Linked DNA regions of Homo sapiens. Each later gene encodes a partner of the first gene's protein in a complex. Each region holds a gene or a part of one and is shown in the gene's direction. Other genes may lie near its edges.

What was found. The genes of interacting proteins can lie anywhere in the genome.
Region 2: the proteins of FBXO22 (region 1) and BACH1 are in contact, whole or in part, in a cryo-EM structure (PDB 8S7D), measured with the Homo sapiens proteins. Residues at the interface, in NP_671717.1 of Homo sapiens: Asp366, Gly371, Asn372, Phe373, Ile374, Leu375, Arg376, Lys377, Cys378; in NP_001177.1 of Homo sapiens: Ser7, Val8, Phe9, Ala10, Tyr11, Glu12, Ser13, Ser14, Val15.

What each region holds. Positions count from the first base shown.
Region 1 is NC_000015.10:75,899,064-75,906,895, forward strand, and holds the start of FBXO22 (F-box only protein 22), read left to right. Parts: upstream 1-4,814; 5' UTR 4,815-4,900; coding exon 4,901-5,040; intron 5,041-5,427; coding exon 5,428-5,566; intron 5,567-6,512; exon of another isoform or gene 6,513-6,594; intron 6,595-7,832. Other genes in the region: UBE2Q2 (ubiquitin-conjugating enzyme E2 Q2), read left to right, coding at 364-395. UniProt on the Homo sapiens protein: Substrate-recognition component of the SCF (SKP1-CUL1-F-box protein)-type E3 ubiquitin ligase complex that is implicated in the control of various cellular processes such as cell cycle control, transcriptional regulation, DNA damage repair, and apoptosis.
Region 2 is NC_000021.9:29,336,919-29,343,942, forward strand, and holds part of BACH1 (transcription regulator protein BACH1), read left to right. Parts: intron 1-5,480; coding exon 5,481-5,915; 3' UTR 5,916-7,024. UniProt on the Homo sapiens protein: Transcriptional regulator that acts as a repressor or activator, depending on the context. Binds to NF-E2 DNA binding sites. Plays important roles in coordinating transcription activation and repression by MAFK.

The sequences.
Region 1 (7,832 bases):
CAGCCTGACCAACATGGTGAAACCCTGTCTCTACTAAATACCAAAAAAAAAAAAAAAAAAAAATTAGTGGGGCATAGTGGCGCATGCCTATAATCCCAGCTACTTGGGAGGCTGAGGCAGGAGAATTGCTTGATCTGGGAGGTGGAGGTTGCAGTGAGCTGAGTTTGCGCCATTGCACTCCAGCCTAGGTAACAGAGTGAAACTCTGTCTCAAAAAATATATATATAATATATATATATATTTTTTACGGTAGATTTTAAACACCAAAATTATGAAAAGAGACTGTAGCTAACCTTATTACATGCCAGTTCTTCTAATTTATTTAAGAATTATTTTAACTTTTTTTTTTTCATTCTATTTCAGGCTGGTACACCCCTCCAAAGGAAGATGGCTAAATGTGTTGACTGTTGTATGTTTGGACTAATGTTGCTTTAAAGAAAATCTTTCTAACATGCAGACAAAAGCTTTGAGTGCCCCTATTACAGCAGTACCGAAGATGTTAGTTAATAGATATTTTAGTGGATAATCTGTCATCTGACATCCAGTATAAGTTACAGCCTTTGCATTTTGCTCATTTTAGATATCTTGGACTGAGCAGTGGGGCCTTTACTGTATTTTTCCTGATAAATACACATACTGGCCACTCCTTATCTCTTTTTCTTGAAAAGTGAACTTTTTAAAGCAGCCAAGTCAACATCAGGCTACTGAAGTTGAGGCTTTAGGGTAACTTTCCTATATTGAGCCCATGGGTTACAAGGATTTGCAATATATTGTTCCATTTACAGCCAATACAGGTTTAATCGATGTTCAATATTGGTTTAGGAAATTTAAGGCCTTCTAAATCATAATAGCTCTTTCATGTCTAAAACCATTTTATGATATTGCCAAAATGTGATAGGAAACCTACTCATTAAATTGTTAAACTTTTTAATGACTATGTGAAGATATGAATTGTTTCCTGAAGATAATACTCTTAATTGAGTTGTATTGTACTTCTTAGGCAAAGCAGTGTAAAACTGTATCAATTAAGGCTTGTGAGTAGTGATTTCCACTGGGGCATCAGAGTCTTGGCTGGGCTGAATCTGCTGCTTGTTGGTTCAGTGTTTCTTATGAACAAGAGCCACAGTACAGAGCTTCAAGTTATTTAAAATACTAAGTCATCTTACGTTTCCATTTTATTAACGGGATGTTGCAATCGTTTGTAAACTAATAAACTTATAAAGTGATTGGCACAAAGACTCCTTGAGCAAAAGCTGTGCAGTTAAGTACAAAAAGATACTTAATTTGGAGACTCTTACAGTAATTTTTGCCATGTCAAAACAATGGCTTTTACATTGAAAGATTAATAGAAACTCTACATATGTTAATTTTTTTATAGAACCTGACTCAAATCAAGGTACTCTCCATTTTATTGCCTTACCTGAATCAGTCCTTTTTGGTTGGTAATAGATTTTTTTATACACCCACGTTTGATTTAAAAGTAAATTCTAGTTCTTAAGCACTTTTAACAAATCCAGAAGCACATTTTTCTGCACAAACAAGTTACAAAGTTCAAAAGTGTTTCTTGTGCATTAGCTTTGAGATTCAGTTTTTAACTTTGTAAACCACATCTGAGAGACTTGTCATTTCTACATTGTGTGTGTTTAATTTCTTTTGATTCCATTTTGGTTAAGAGAGCAGTAAATAGATTTTCTGGTATTCTTGTTCACTTGATTACATTTGTATAAAGTTCTGATTGCCAGTTGCTCAGATAACAAGTGACAAGGCAGAATTCTTTAAATCAGTAAAGTTCCTTAAGCCTAAGGCTAAATCTTGAATACATTGTTGAATTCTTTAATATCCTGATGGCAAGCAGACTGATAGCTGCACATTTGGCATGCTTTGTTTAATGGATTTTATTTTTAATTGCAGATTTATTTGGCAATGTACAGTAAATTTTGTAAACTTGCATCAAGTTTATGAATAAAGAACCATTTAAAAATTTTGTTTGTGCTGATCATGGCAAGCAAAAAAAAGATTACTTTCTCATTTTTCCCTCATAAGAAAACTCTGCTTGATGTGTTTGTAGGCTTTATTGAGTTTCTGGAATAAGATATTTAAGGAGGGAAGTGGTGAGGGGAGGCTTGGAAGACAGGCAGATTTAACAAGAGAAAGTGAAAGTGTGAAAGAACCTGGAAATAGTCTGTACAATAGTCACCTTTTCCTCCGCCTTTTTCCTCTTCCATTCTCATTATAAATTCAAGTGCTACTTTTTCCTTATGGCTATCCTTAGTTCCCCCAGTGAAAATAATCTGCTCCTTCCTTAGCATACCCATGGCCTCCTTGCACACAATTGACAGATTATTTCACATACAAGAAGTCCAGAGGTAGGACAACTCCAGGTACTGTACATCTGGGCTTTGCTCTGCTTCCTTGAGATTTTTCTATGTTGGTTTCATCTTTTGGTTGCATGTTATGTGCAGCCCCCTTACTTGATCCAGAGGTAGATAAATGGCCCTGTCTTCTAGTGTCTCCTTAGGAGGTGAGGAAATCTCTAAAAGCACCATCCCATCAAGCACACTGCCTCTTGCCTTTCCTTGGCTACATCAGGGACCTGTGCCCACCCCTAAACCAATGGTGGTGAAAAGAATGAAACCATCGTGATTAGTTTGCACAAATGGTTCTCAAAGCCTTATTTGGGGAACACTGGAGACCCCTGAGACCATTTCAAGAGGTTTTAAAAGACTATTTTCATAATATTAAAACATTTGCCATTTTCACTCATTCTTCCATGTGTACAATGGAATTTTCCAGAGGCTACATGATGTGATTTTGCAACAGATTGAATTCAGAAGCAAATATGAGAATCTATTTGTCTTCTATTAAGACAAATTAAATATTTGCAAAAATGTAGTGATGCCGTCACTGGTAAACTGTCCTCTTTCCCTACTTTATATCAGCCACAAAGAAAGAACGCCCACTTTGAAAGGCAGTCAGGTTTCATTCAGTAGCCAGAGAATGGAGAAGGGGAGCTCATACTCTAAAGGCACCTTCTCCCAGAGGGATGGGAGGCTGGGGAGTTTAAAGAGTTAGCTGAGGGGCGGGGGAGGTATGAACGGCATGCACAGACTGGAGTTCCAGACAAGCAGGCATAGTCCCTGAACATGCTGCTTCATACATCCATGTTCGTAAGATGCCAGTGAGCTTTCTTTAGGGAGAGGATTTTAGCATTATGTTAATTATCTAAAGGTAACTGGAGGGCGCCTGTTTATCTTCCTCTGGTATTCCGCAAGGGGTCAGGAAGCTCTGGTGACATCTGGGCCATCTGGCTTCCTTAAGCAGCTGCGCCTATAAATAGACTATGGGAAAAAACTGGCTGGGCTTGGTGGCTCATACCTGTAATCTCAACGCTTTGGGAGGCGGAGGCAGAGGGATGTCTTGAGGCCAGGAGTTTGAGACCAGCCTGGGCAACATAGACCCTGGGTCTACCAAAAAAAAGAAAAAAACCACAGCTACTCAGGAGGCTTATGCCACTGACAATGTCATACTATCCACCAGTGGGGGAAGGAGGATTTGGGAAATAATTGTTTTCCATAAAAATATTTCGTTAATGTATAACATCGGTTTTTTAAAAAGAGTTAAGCATTAAGATGTTCTGATTTAATTTTTAATATGGTAAATATTGATAGTCATAACACACATAAACTATTGGTCGTGTCAATATTTTAGGGTGTAAAGGGTCCTGAGGCCATAATGAGAACTGCTAATTTAGACCAAGTTTCTGCCCAAGATCTGGCGATCAAATCAGGGCTCCCTTAGGAAGGAATTGGCGGGAGGAATGGATGTTAGGTGGGGACAAACCTGTGTCTGCTGTGCTTCCATTTCTTGGTGGTTCTCAGTTTGAGCATGCATCAGAATCGTCATAAAGTGTGTTAAAACAGATTGCTGGGCCTCACCCCCAGTGTCTGATTCAGGAGGTCTGGGATAAGGACCGGGAATGTGCTAAAACTTAGTAGTTTCCAGGTGAATCTGATGTCCCTGGCGGGGAACTGGTGCACAGCTTGGGGCGTGCTTCACAGCAATCATCTCACTCAGCTACCTTAGAATGGCAGGTGCTATTTATGCCATTTTACTCATTCGAAACTTTAAACCTGAAGATTACAACGAGTTAACTAAGTTTACAAGGAATAAAGGCAGTGATTTTCACACACTAAGACAATTTTTTAAAAGCAAACGTCCGTTTATAAATCGAGCTTATGCTATTTAAACAGGCATTGGGACTACGAAGAGCAATAAGTACTACCTAGTCCCTGCAAGGAATTTGTGAATTAGAGAAAGATGTAAACTCAGAAATATGGCGGTGCCAGGGCAGTGAGAGGCACAGGCACAGAAGAAGAATTTATTTTCACTGCAGGAGGCCTCCTAGAAAGTTGCCAGGAGCGGTGGCTTATGTCTGTAATTCCAGCACCTTGGGAGGCCCAGGCGGGAGTATCGCTTGAGCCCTGGAGTTTCAGACCAGCCTGGAAACCCGTCTCTACAAAAAATACAAAAATTAGCTGGGCGTGGTGGCGGGAGCTTGTAGTTAAAGCTACGAGGGAGGCTGAGGCGGGAGGATCGCTTGAGCCTGGGAGGTAGAAGCTGCAGTGAGCAGAGGCCGCGCCACTCCACTCCCGCCTGGCCACAGCATTAGACCCAATCTCAAAAATGAAGAAAACAGTTCCGAGCGTATTACGGAACGGAGTACACCTCGGAGTACGGGCTCCAGACGAGGGAACGCACCGGCGTTGCCACGCCCACCTTCCCCGTCCAGCCGGAAGTGGCGCGGACGCCTGCTCAGTGCGCGCCGGCCGGGCAACCCTATGCTGGCGTAATCGGGTTCCTCCGAGCCGCCGTAGGACTGGTTCCGGCGGGCTGGTGAGGAATGGAGCCGGTAGGCTGCTGCGGCGAGTGCCGCGGCTCCTCCGTAGACCCGCGGAGCACCTTCGTGTTGAGTAACCTGGCGGAGGTGGTGGAGCGTGTGCTCACCTTCCTGCCCGCCAAGGCGTTGCTGCGGGTGGCCTGGTGAGGAGAGGAGGCGGAGGCGGGAAGCTTGCCTGGGGACACGCCGTGGGCATGTCCCAGGCTGGCGGGGTGGGGGGAGAGACCCTTGGGACCCACCAGGGCCGTCCCCGGCTCGCTCGCCCTACCTGAGGTGACCCCCTACCCGCGAGGTATCTCCCAGCCGTGGTGCCCCGGGGGGACTTCCCTGAGGGGCGAAGTTCCCCTTAAGGTTTTCTCCATATCTGGCTCTTCTTCCGAACTAGCGCCCTGACTGACACCTACCTACCCCGGGGACTTTGGATCCCGCAGGGATCTCCTGCTGCTGCGCCAGCGGGTGGGGGTTTGTGAGCTGTGGGAGAGACGAAAATGAACGTCCGTTCGCAATCCTTTGTGCGTTTGCGTCCTCAGCGTGTGCCGCTTATGGAGGGAGTGTGTGCGCAGAGTATTGCGGACCCATCGGAGCGTAACCTGGATCTCCGCAGGCCTGGCGGAGGCCGGCCACCTGGAGGGGCATTGCTTGGTTCGCGTGGTAGCAGAGGAGCTTGAGGCAAGTAGCAAGGGGTGTCATGCACAGTCATTTGCAGGTTGGTGGTTCAGTCTTTGAGAACTATTTTTTTTTAAATCCCAGTTTTGTTAATTAAAGGAACATCTCGTTCCGTGAAAAGATTTTGTAAACATCAGTTTTAGTGACTACACGGTAAGGATGTGTCATGATTTATTTGACCGTTCATCAAATGTTGGGCCTTTTTTTTTTTTTTTGAGACGTAGTCTCGCTCTGTGGCCCAGGCTGGAGTGCAGTGGCGCGATCTCGGCTCACCGCAAGCTCCGCCTCCCGGGTTCACGCCATTCTCCTGCCTCAGCCTCCCGAGTAGCTGGGACTACAGGCGCCCGCCACCATGCCCAGCTAATTTTTTGTATTTTTAGTAGAGATGGGGTTTCACCGTGTTAGCCAGAATGGTCTCGATCTCCTGACCTCGTGATCCGCCCGCCTCGGCCTCCCAAAGTGCTGGGATTACAGGCGTGAGCCACCGCGCCCGGCATGTTGGGCCTTTTAAGTATCCACATTTTCACTATTAACAACAACGCTGTGCAGAACCTTCCCTTCACCTGCTTCCCTTGAAGCAACTTTTTGTTGTCTGTTTTACCGGGAAGACAACTGGGTGTGTCTTGCTCAGTGAGCACACCTAGAAAGCCAAGAACCAAAACTTAAAGCCAAATATTTCAACTTCTGATCCTGTACTCTTTTGCTTCTCTGGCCCCCAACTTCAAAAGGGGAGCCAACACCAGGAGAGATGAAGACTCGAACTGTGGAGTCAGAGGGGCTGCAGGGTGTACCATCTCTGGGGAGTGGAAGGGAACCATTTGACAGTAAAGTGCCAACCTGCTGCTCTGTCACTCTGTTTACTTTAGTACGGCTTACAGACAGACATAACTACGGTGCAGCCGTCACAATCAGGAAATTATCACTGATACATTTCTACCATTTTATCCTCAGACTCGGTTCAGATTTTGCCAGTTGTCCCAGTAAGGTTCTTCATGGCAAAAAGATCTGTTCCCAATTGCAATTTGCTCTGAGTAAGTCCTGTTTCTTTAATCTCCTTTGATCTGGAACAGTTTCTCAAGCTTTGCTTGATTTTTCCCAATCTTGACACTTAGGAAAATCACAGGCTATTTTGTAGAACATCCATCAATTGTGTCTTTGGCAGGAAATAATCACAGAAGTGATGCTGTGCTTTTTTCACGGCATACTTTAGGTGGCATGTGATTTCCATTCGTCTTGTTATTGGTGGTATTACCTTTGATTACTCAATTAAGGCGATGCTTGCCAAGTGTCTTCACTAAAATCACTCTTCTACTGTAATGATTGTTTTGTGAAGAGATCATTTGAAACTATGTAAATATCGTGTTTCAATTCATTTATTTATTTATATCTGTACACTCTCGGAGTCTTATTTAATTCAGTGGGATATAATCTGTTACTGTATTTTGGTGCTCAAATTACCCCTCTCACCCCCTAGTTTGGCTAGTAGGAGCTCCTTCAGGCTGGCTTCAGTGTCTTTTTAGAGATGACTCCATTATCTTTGAGCACTTTTCTTGTTTTCTGGCACAAGATGTTCTAAGCTTGTCTTGGGTTTTACCTGCCTTGGTCCTGGAATTGGCCATTAAGCCCTGGCTCCTTTTGATGGAGTGTGGTATTTAGAAATCAAGGTCTAGACTCTCTAAGTGTACTCCTTGCCATTGAGGGATTTGCTGCTCCAAAGCCCAGTCATTAGAGCCAAGGAATATAAGTATGTATATACATGCATGTGTATGTATATACATTAGTATATACATATACACACATTTACAATTATATTTCTATATATATGTGGAGGCTCATGAGTTCACACAGGTGCATCCTTTTCGAATCAAACGCAGGATGCTTTCTAGTTTTGTCTCTGCTCATATTTGTACCTCCCTTTTGGGCAAAGGGAAACCTGGTTCTCATCATTCTTAATGTATTTAGATATTACATCAATGCCCCATATGTAACCAATCTTCTGTTTCCCCCTTCCTTGGGTGGTCTTTCTCCTTACCTTGTTTGGGCTCTGGAACTCTCATTCCAGGGAGCTGGCCAGTATCCAAAGGCAGGCTTGTAGAAAACTTTTCTTCTCTGGCACTTTGTCTCAACTCTTCCCATTTTCCCAGAAGTTTATCATTTGGAAAAATTCAAAATGCAAGCAGATTTCCTCGAAAGTGTTCTCTGGAGCATCGTTTATAATAAGGGATACTAAAAACCTAATGTTAATCTAATAAATAAAGCTATTAAATTA
Region 2 (7,024 bases), on another chromosome or scaffold:
TCCTCAGCCTCCCAAAGTGCTGGGATTACAGACATGAGCCACCATGCCTGGCCTTTTCTTGTTTTCTCTTTTCCCTCCCTCCCACTCTTTGGAATCACAGTGGACTCATGGATTAATTTTTTCTGATTCAATTTGTTAGGATAAGTAATAGTCATTATTCTTTTTGATGTTGACATTTTTCAAATTTGGCCTGGGAGAGCCCGTTCAAGCCAGCTCCTGTCCTGTTGACATAACCATCTAGCACTTGCCATGGTCTCACTTTTTAACCTCTATTGTTTCAAGATTTGGAATCACCCATTTCTTTAAAACTCCTGGTTTCTTCTAGCAGTTATATTGGACTTTGGAAAGCCTACCTGCTGCTGGAGTATTATTCCTTCTGGGCCTTTTTCAGTGGACAGAGCTAGGAAATATATGCATCTGTGTATAAAATAAAGTTCATTATATCATGAATTCATATATATCAGGCTTCAGTAAATGAAAGTAAAAAGTACATTAGAAATCCTGAGTTTATGTAGTATTTCCAGTCCAAATTTAGCAGTATAGAGCTTTTGTCTTCACTTCTGTGTTTATGTTTAATCTCTCATCATTTACAGGAAAAATTTTGGCTCCAATTACATTAGTGTATTGTTTCCTTTATAATATACAGTAAGTTCTCACTTAACATGAAATGATGGATAATGAAACCAGTTTTTTTCCTCATCAACTTTATAATGAAAGGATGTTGTAAAAATGAGAACACTTGGACACAGGGTGGGGAACATCACACACCGGGGCCTGTCGTCGGGTGGGGGAGTGGGGAGGGATAGCATTAGGAGATATACCTAATGTGCCGGGTGCGGTGGCTCAGGAGTTCGAGGCTAGCCTGGCCAACATGGTGGTGCAAACCTGTAATCCCAGCTACTCGGGAGGCTGAGGCAGGAGAATCGCTTGAACCTGGGAGGTGGAGGTTGCGGTGAGCTGAGATCATGCCATTGCACTCCAGCCTGGGCTACAAGAGCGAAACTCCGTCTTAAAACAAAAACAAAAACAAAAACAAAAACAAAAAAAACGAGTTAATGGGTGCAGCACACTAACATGGCACATGTATACATATGTAACAAACCTGCACGTTGTGCACATGTACCCTAGAACTTAAAGTATAATATAAATAAACAATAAAATAAAAAAGAAAGGATGTGGAACAAAATGTTTATTGAGGACCTGGTGTGCGTTGTTTCTCTTAAAGTCAGTTTCCAAAAACCTGTCGATGATTTTAAGTGAGGGCACACTGTATAAAAAGTAAGAAAATTAGACAATCAGTATTACTATTAACAGTAAACAAATTGAGCAGAATTTGAGATTTATTTGCTTTTTTATGCTTAAATATTTCCCAGTGTGAAGCTTTAAAGTTATTTGAAATATTTGTGTTACCAATTTGGCATACAATTAATTTTTTTTTCTATTTATATTACTGGGATTTACTCTACATTTTTTGAGACAGGGTTTCACTCTGTCACCCAGGCTAGAGTGCAGTGGCACAGTCATGACTCACTGCAGCCTTGACTTCTTGGGATCAAGCAAATCCTCTCATATCAGCCTTCTGAGTAGCCAGGACTACAGGTGCGCACCACCATGCCCGGGTAATTTTTTTGTGAAGGTGAGGTTTCGCTGTGTTGCCCAGGCTCCTCTCAAAACTCCTGGGCTCAATCGATCCTCCTGCCTTGGCCTCCCAAAGTGCTGAGATTTTAGGCATGAGCCACCATGCCTGGCCTACATTTTTAATTTGTTTTATTTTGAATGTAAAACGTTTATATGGTTCAAACATTAAAACTATATTTTAAAAAATATATACTCCAAATCTTGATCTCATCTTCTCCTTATACCCTATTCATAGCTACTTCCTATAGGTAACCATTTTCATTAGTTTCTGGATTTTTTTTTCCCTGTGTTTCTTTTCTAAAAATGTGTTAACATTTTATGTCTACTCTTATTATCCATCCTGCTGCATGGAAGTATTTTATATACATTTTTCTGTACTTTTTAAACTTAAGAATTGATTTATAGGAAATATTTTTTCTTAGTTCAGAGAGGTTGTCATTCGTTTTCCAGCTCCATAGTACTCAGTAGTGACTGTAATACAGTTCAAACCAGTCTTCTGTGGGTGGACAGTTGGGATCCTGCAGTGAATAACTGTATACTGTTTCATGTTTAAGGAGCTGTGTCTCTAGGACACATTCCTAGAAGTGGGATTGTTGGATCAAGGGTAAATACATACATAATTTTATTAGATATTAACAGATTCCCCTCCTTAGGAATTGTCATATTTGGCCTTCCAGCAGCAGTATATGTGTGTGTGTCTGTCCACACCCTCAGTCAAGATTTGTTGTCAGCTTTTGGGTTTTTTCCAGTCTGATAGTGAGATACCATGATATCTCGTGGTAGCTTTTATTTTTATCTTATGAGTGAAAATGAGCATTTTTGCTTATATTTCTCAGTGCCATTTGCAGATTTCTCTGAACTGCCGTTCAGAGGTTTTACTTACTAAGGAACTATTAGTGACCATTTTCTAACAGTGAGTACTCTTTACCCTATCATAAAATTGTCACTTGTACTTTTGGTGCCAAATTCTTCTATATCTTTATTGGGTGAGTTATATTTATGATCTTTAAAAAAATTATATTTGAATAAATATTGTGCACTAGCTATTCAAAATAAGGATTTAGATGCAAAGGTTTTTTTTTTTTTTTTTTTTTGAGACAGAGTCTTGCTCTGTCACCCAGGCTGGAGTGCAGCGGCACAATCTCGGCTCACCGCAACCTCCGTCTCCCAGGCTCAAGTGATTCCCCTGCCTCAGCCTGCCCTTTTAGCTAGGTTTACAGGTGTGTGCCACCATGCCCAGCTAATTTTTTTGTATTTTTATTAGAGACAGGGTTTCACCATGTTGGCTAAGCTGGTCTCGAACTCCTGACCTCACATGACCCGCCCACCTCAGCCTCCCAAAGTGCTGGGATTACAGGCGTGAGCCACTGTGCCCAGCCTGTAAAGATTTTTTGTTGGTATAAAATCCAGAATGGTACCAGAATGCCAATTTTATTCCTTTTTAAGAAATAGCTCTAATTAAAGGTGCAGCACTTCAAACGTGATTTATACAGTTGTTTTTATAGGAAAATGGAAATATATTGTAGGGATAGGTAGCAGGACACTAATAGTGAGTCCCACTCATGACTGTAAGTAGTGACTTTGGGAGGTATCTTAAATACTGATGTCATTAAGTAATTAACTTGAATTACTTGTATTTTACTTTTAGTTATTAAGCTGACTGCTATTATAGTAAATATGTGTCTTAAACTTAGAGTGAAATGGAAACTGCTTAGAAGCTTAGCTGTGTAGGAGTTAAAGTGCAGGGGAACAGATGGGAACATTTAATTTATAGAAATAATTCTGGTGGAGTTCTAGGGCTGTGCCTATTTGTTTTAGTTGTTGTGAAGAAGCAAGCCATCTTGTATACTTAAAGAATGATGTCATCCCTAATTTAGTGGGGTGGGAGGAGTGAGAGTATTTAAAGATCATGTGGATATTAAGATACAGAAGTCATAAAATATTTGTAATCTTCATAGTATCTGTAGGTTAAGTAGTGGTTCTAATTTCTGGGAGGAAGCTCAAGTACTCCTTATTTTGTTGAACCATATTTAATTTAAAAGACCAACCAGCAGTTGAAAATTTTCTATTGCTGTTTAGAATAGATTCATCCCAACTTTGGTAGAGGAGTCCATGGCTGAATATTGCCATGAGTGAAGAAAGATTCTTTCTCACTTTCTTCTGGAAGCTTTGTTTTCATCCTCCTTTGGATTGGCTTCTGAGAGACCATAAAAAGAAATGGGTGTTGATTGCATTTAATGGTTCCTACTGTGAACAAGCAGTAGGTACCGTTCTTGCCCTTTCAGTATCTGCAGACTCATTTTATCAGAAGAGTGCAACTGATAAACTTTGCATAAGAGAAAATGTACTGGCCAAACATTGATTTTGCTTACATACACATACTTAACACGCACATTCTTGACCTACATCTATTTAAAAAAAAAAAAAAAAAGAACTTGTATATAAAAATCTGAACAGATTGGAGAATACTTTGCCATATAAAAATTTAGTATTTTGTATTTATTGTATATTTTCTCAAAATATTACAAGGCTTTAAAATATTTTAGAAATAACAATAATTGGATTCATACATAATTTTATAGTAATACTTTTGTATAAAACCATAACAATACTTTTGTATAAAGCAAAATTCGTTTTACCCTTTTAGTGACTTTTATGTCATAAAAGACTAAAGGATGGCACTTATAGATTAGCACTATGAACTAACTTGTCTCAAGGTTAACTGGCAGCCTCAACTCTCCAGAACCTGTCAATGAACAGAAAGCAAACAGAACAACACTGACTTGTTGAGAGTTGTGATAAATTTCATAAGAAAAACGTTTGACTTTCTAGCAAGTGTTTATTTACTCTTTTCTTATAAATACCTTGATTATTTGGTTTCCTGGCTCATAATAGATTAGAAGCAATAAGATGTTAGAACAAGAAGGATGAAATGGGATGATAATAGAAAAGACATGCTGTCAGCAGTGATAAGTGACATGGACAGGAAGGCAGGAACCAGAAAAACTTTTGAAAAATTCTGTGGTAGACTTTCTTATAGGGGTAATATCTTAAAATTATAATAATAACAAAAATGGTAATTAGCAAGCACAAAATTACCCCCCCGAATTCTTCACACTTTAGTAACTCACCCACCGGCTGTCTCTAGGCATCTTAAATTCAGTCCCATCCCTTCAGTGGGTTTGATGTTGCTTAAATCAAGAGAGGTGTTGTGTGGATTACATAGCTGAGATTGCATGTTGGAAAACATTTAGCACAATATCTGTCAGAGAATCTGCTCAACAAATGCTGGTCATTAGTTGAATCTTGCAATGCTTTGAGTCTCAGTAATTAAGTTATGCTAACTGTACTTTTACTTTTTTTCTTGTATCCCATCCAAAATGCCATCCATACCTGTTATGTACAGTCTGTAAATCCAGAAAGCTCCAAAAACCGTATGTTTGTCACAAACTCTTTTGACCGAAAAACTGCCCCAAATTGACATTAGACTACATAGTCTTTATCCTACTTTCTTCATTATTTGCTATTTTAATGTTTACCTAGAAATGTAAAGATAGTTGATAGGGAAGTGCTGCCCCAGGCCTGCTAGAGAAATTATGTGTGCACCCATACTGTCTTTCCAAAACCTGAAAAATGCTTTGTGCCAAAATACATCTGCCCCAAGAGTTTTGGGTGGGAGATTCTGGGCCTTTAGTATTTAATGTATAATTGAATGGAATTGAAAGGATAAACTCCATGTGATCTTACTTGATGAGAAGCCCCTGTATATTATTTGATCGCCTTGGAAATGTTGATTGAGCTAATAAACACAAGCCATTGTGTTCTCTTTCCCCACTTCACAGCAAAGTGAAAAGGAGAGCTTGTTGAAGGAAAGAGATCACATTTTGTCAACTCTGGGTGAGACAAAGCAGAACCTAACTGGACTTTGCCAGAAAGTTTGTAAAGAAGCAGCTCTGAGTCAAGAACAAATACAGATACTCGCCAAGTACTCAGCTGCAGATTGCCCACTTTCATTTTTAATTTCTGAAAAAGATAAAAGTACTCCTGATGGTGAACTGGCGTTACCATCAATTTTCAGTTTATCTGACCGGCCTCCAGCAGTGCTGCCTCCCTGTGCCAGAGGAAACAGTGAGCCTGGCTACGCGCGAGGGCAGGAGTCCCAGCAGATGTCCACAGCCACCTCTGAGCAAGCTGGGCCTGCGGAACAGTGTCGTCAGAGTGGTGGGATCTCAGATTTCTGTCAGCAGATGACTGATAAATGTACTACTGATGAGTAAACTTGCATTCACTTCCTTCAAACCATCTAATTTTCTCCTGAAGTTTTGGCAGCGTCTTGAAAGCCTAATATGACCATCTGTTGCTCAACAATACTGTTTTTTTCCTTTAGTAGTTTACCATAAGGGAATTTCCTTTAAGTCAACCATGATTTCTCCTTGATTTCTACAAGAGACAAAGAAATGATTTTGCCTCCTGGATATCAGAAAAATCCATGTGAAAATGTAGTAAACCTTTAAAACTCATGTTTTAAAGAATAATAACTCTAGTAATAACTCTTCCTGCTATTCAGAATAAGTAGGAGAATGAAAACTGCAGCATATCAGACAGCAATTTAACAGCTTGAAACATCTACAGATAGTTCCTACTAAAAGAAGTGGCCTGCAGAAGTTTAATAATTTGACTTTTTTCTAATATTTTAGTTTGAAAGAAAATTTCTTCCCAAGCAATGCTAATAGAGTTCTATTCTTAGAAGCAGGGTGTCAGCTACTGGGAATATTTTTGTAGAGCTGCATTGTGAAAAAAAGATGGTCTTACCTGAATCTTAGGGCTTTGTTCTTCGGCTCCTAAAATCAGGCTTTAAGCTACATTGGGAAGATTTAGTAAATAGGCAAGTGGTTGGCCTAAGACGGGGGCTGCTTCTCCTCTTCAGTATGGACTCTAGAAAGTCTGGCTACATGAATAGATTTAAGTGTCACTTTCCCTCCCTGCCCCCCGCTTCAGTCTCTACCATATCTGGTCCCATCATGGACTTCCTATTTCCTGGCATTTTTGTCCCTTTGGAAGAAGAAATAGGACTCAGAATACAGTGGCATGAGTGATTACACTGGCAGCATTATCTCAGGCTCCCTAGAATCTGGAGAGCTTACCAACATGTAAAGCTGTTCATTTTTCCACCGTGGGTCACCAATGCCAGAAAACCAGACATCACGGGGAAAGAATGTTGCTTACTTTTTACCAGGAGTGCAGTTCATTTTTTTCACCCTGTTTTTGAAGTCGTATTATTCACTTGTAAAAATGATTGTAACAGATAAAAAATGTATCTGCAGCAACTCTGCAGGTTTGTGAAATAGGATGAAACTCAATCTTTTTCTATTGTGGGTTTGCATTT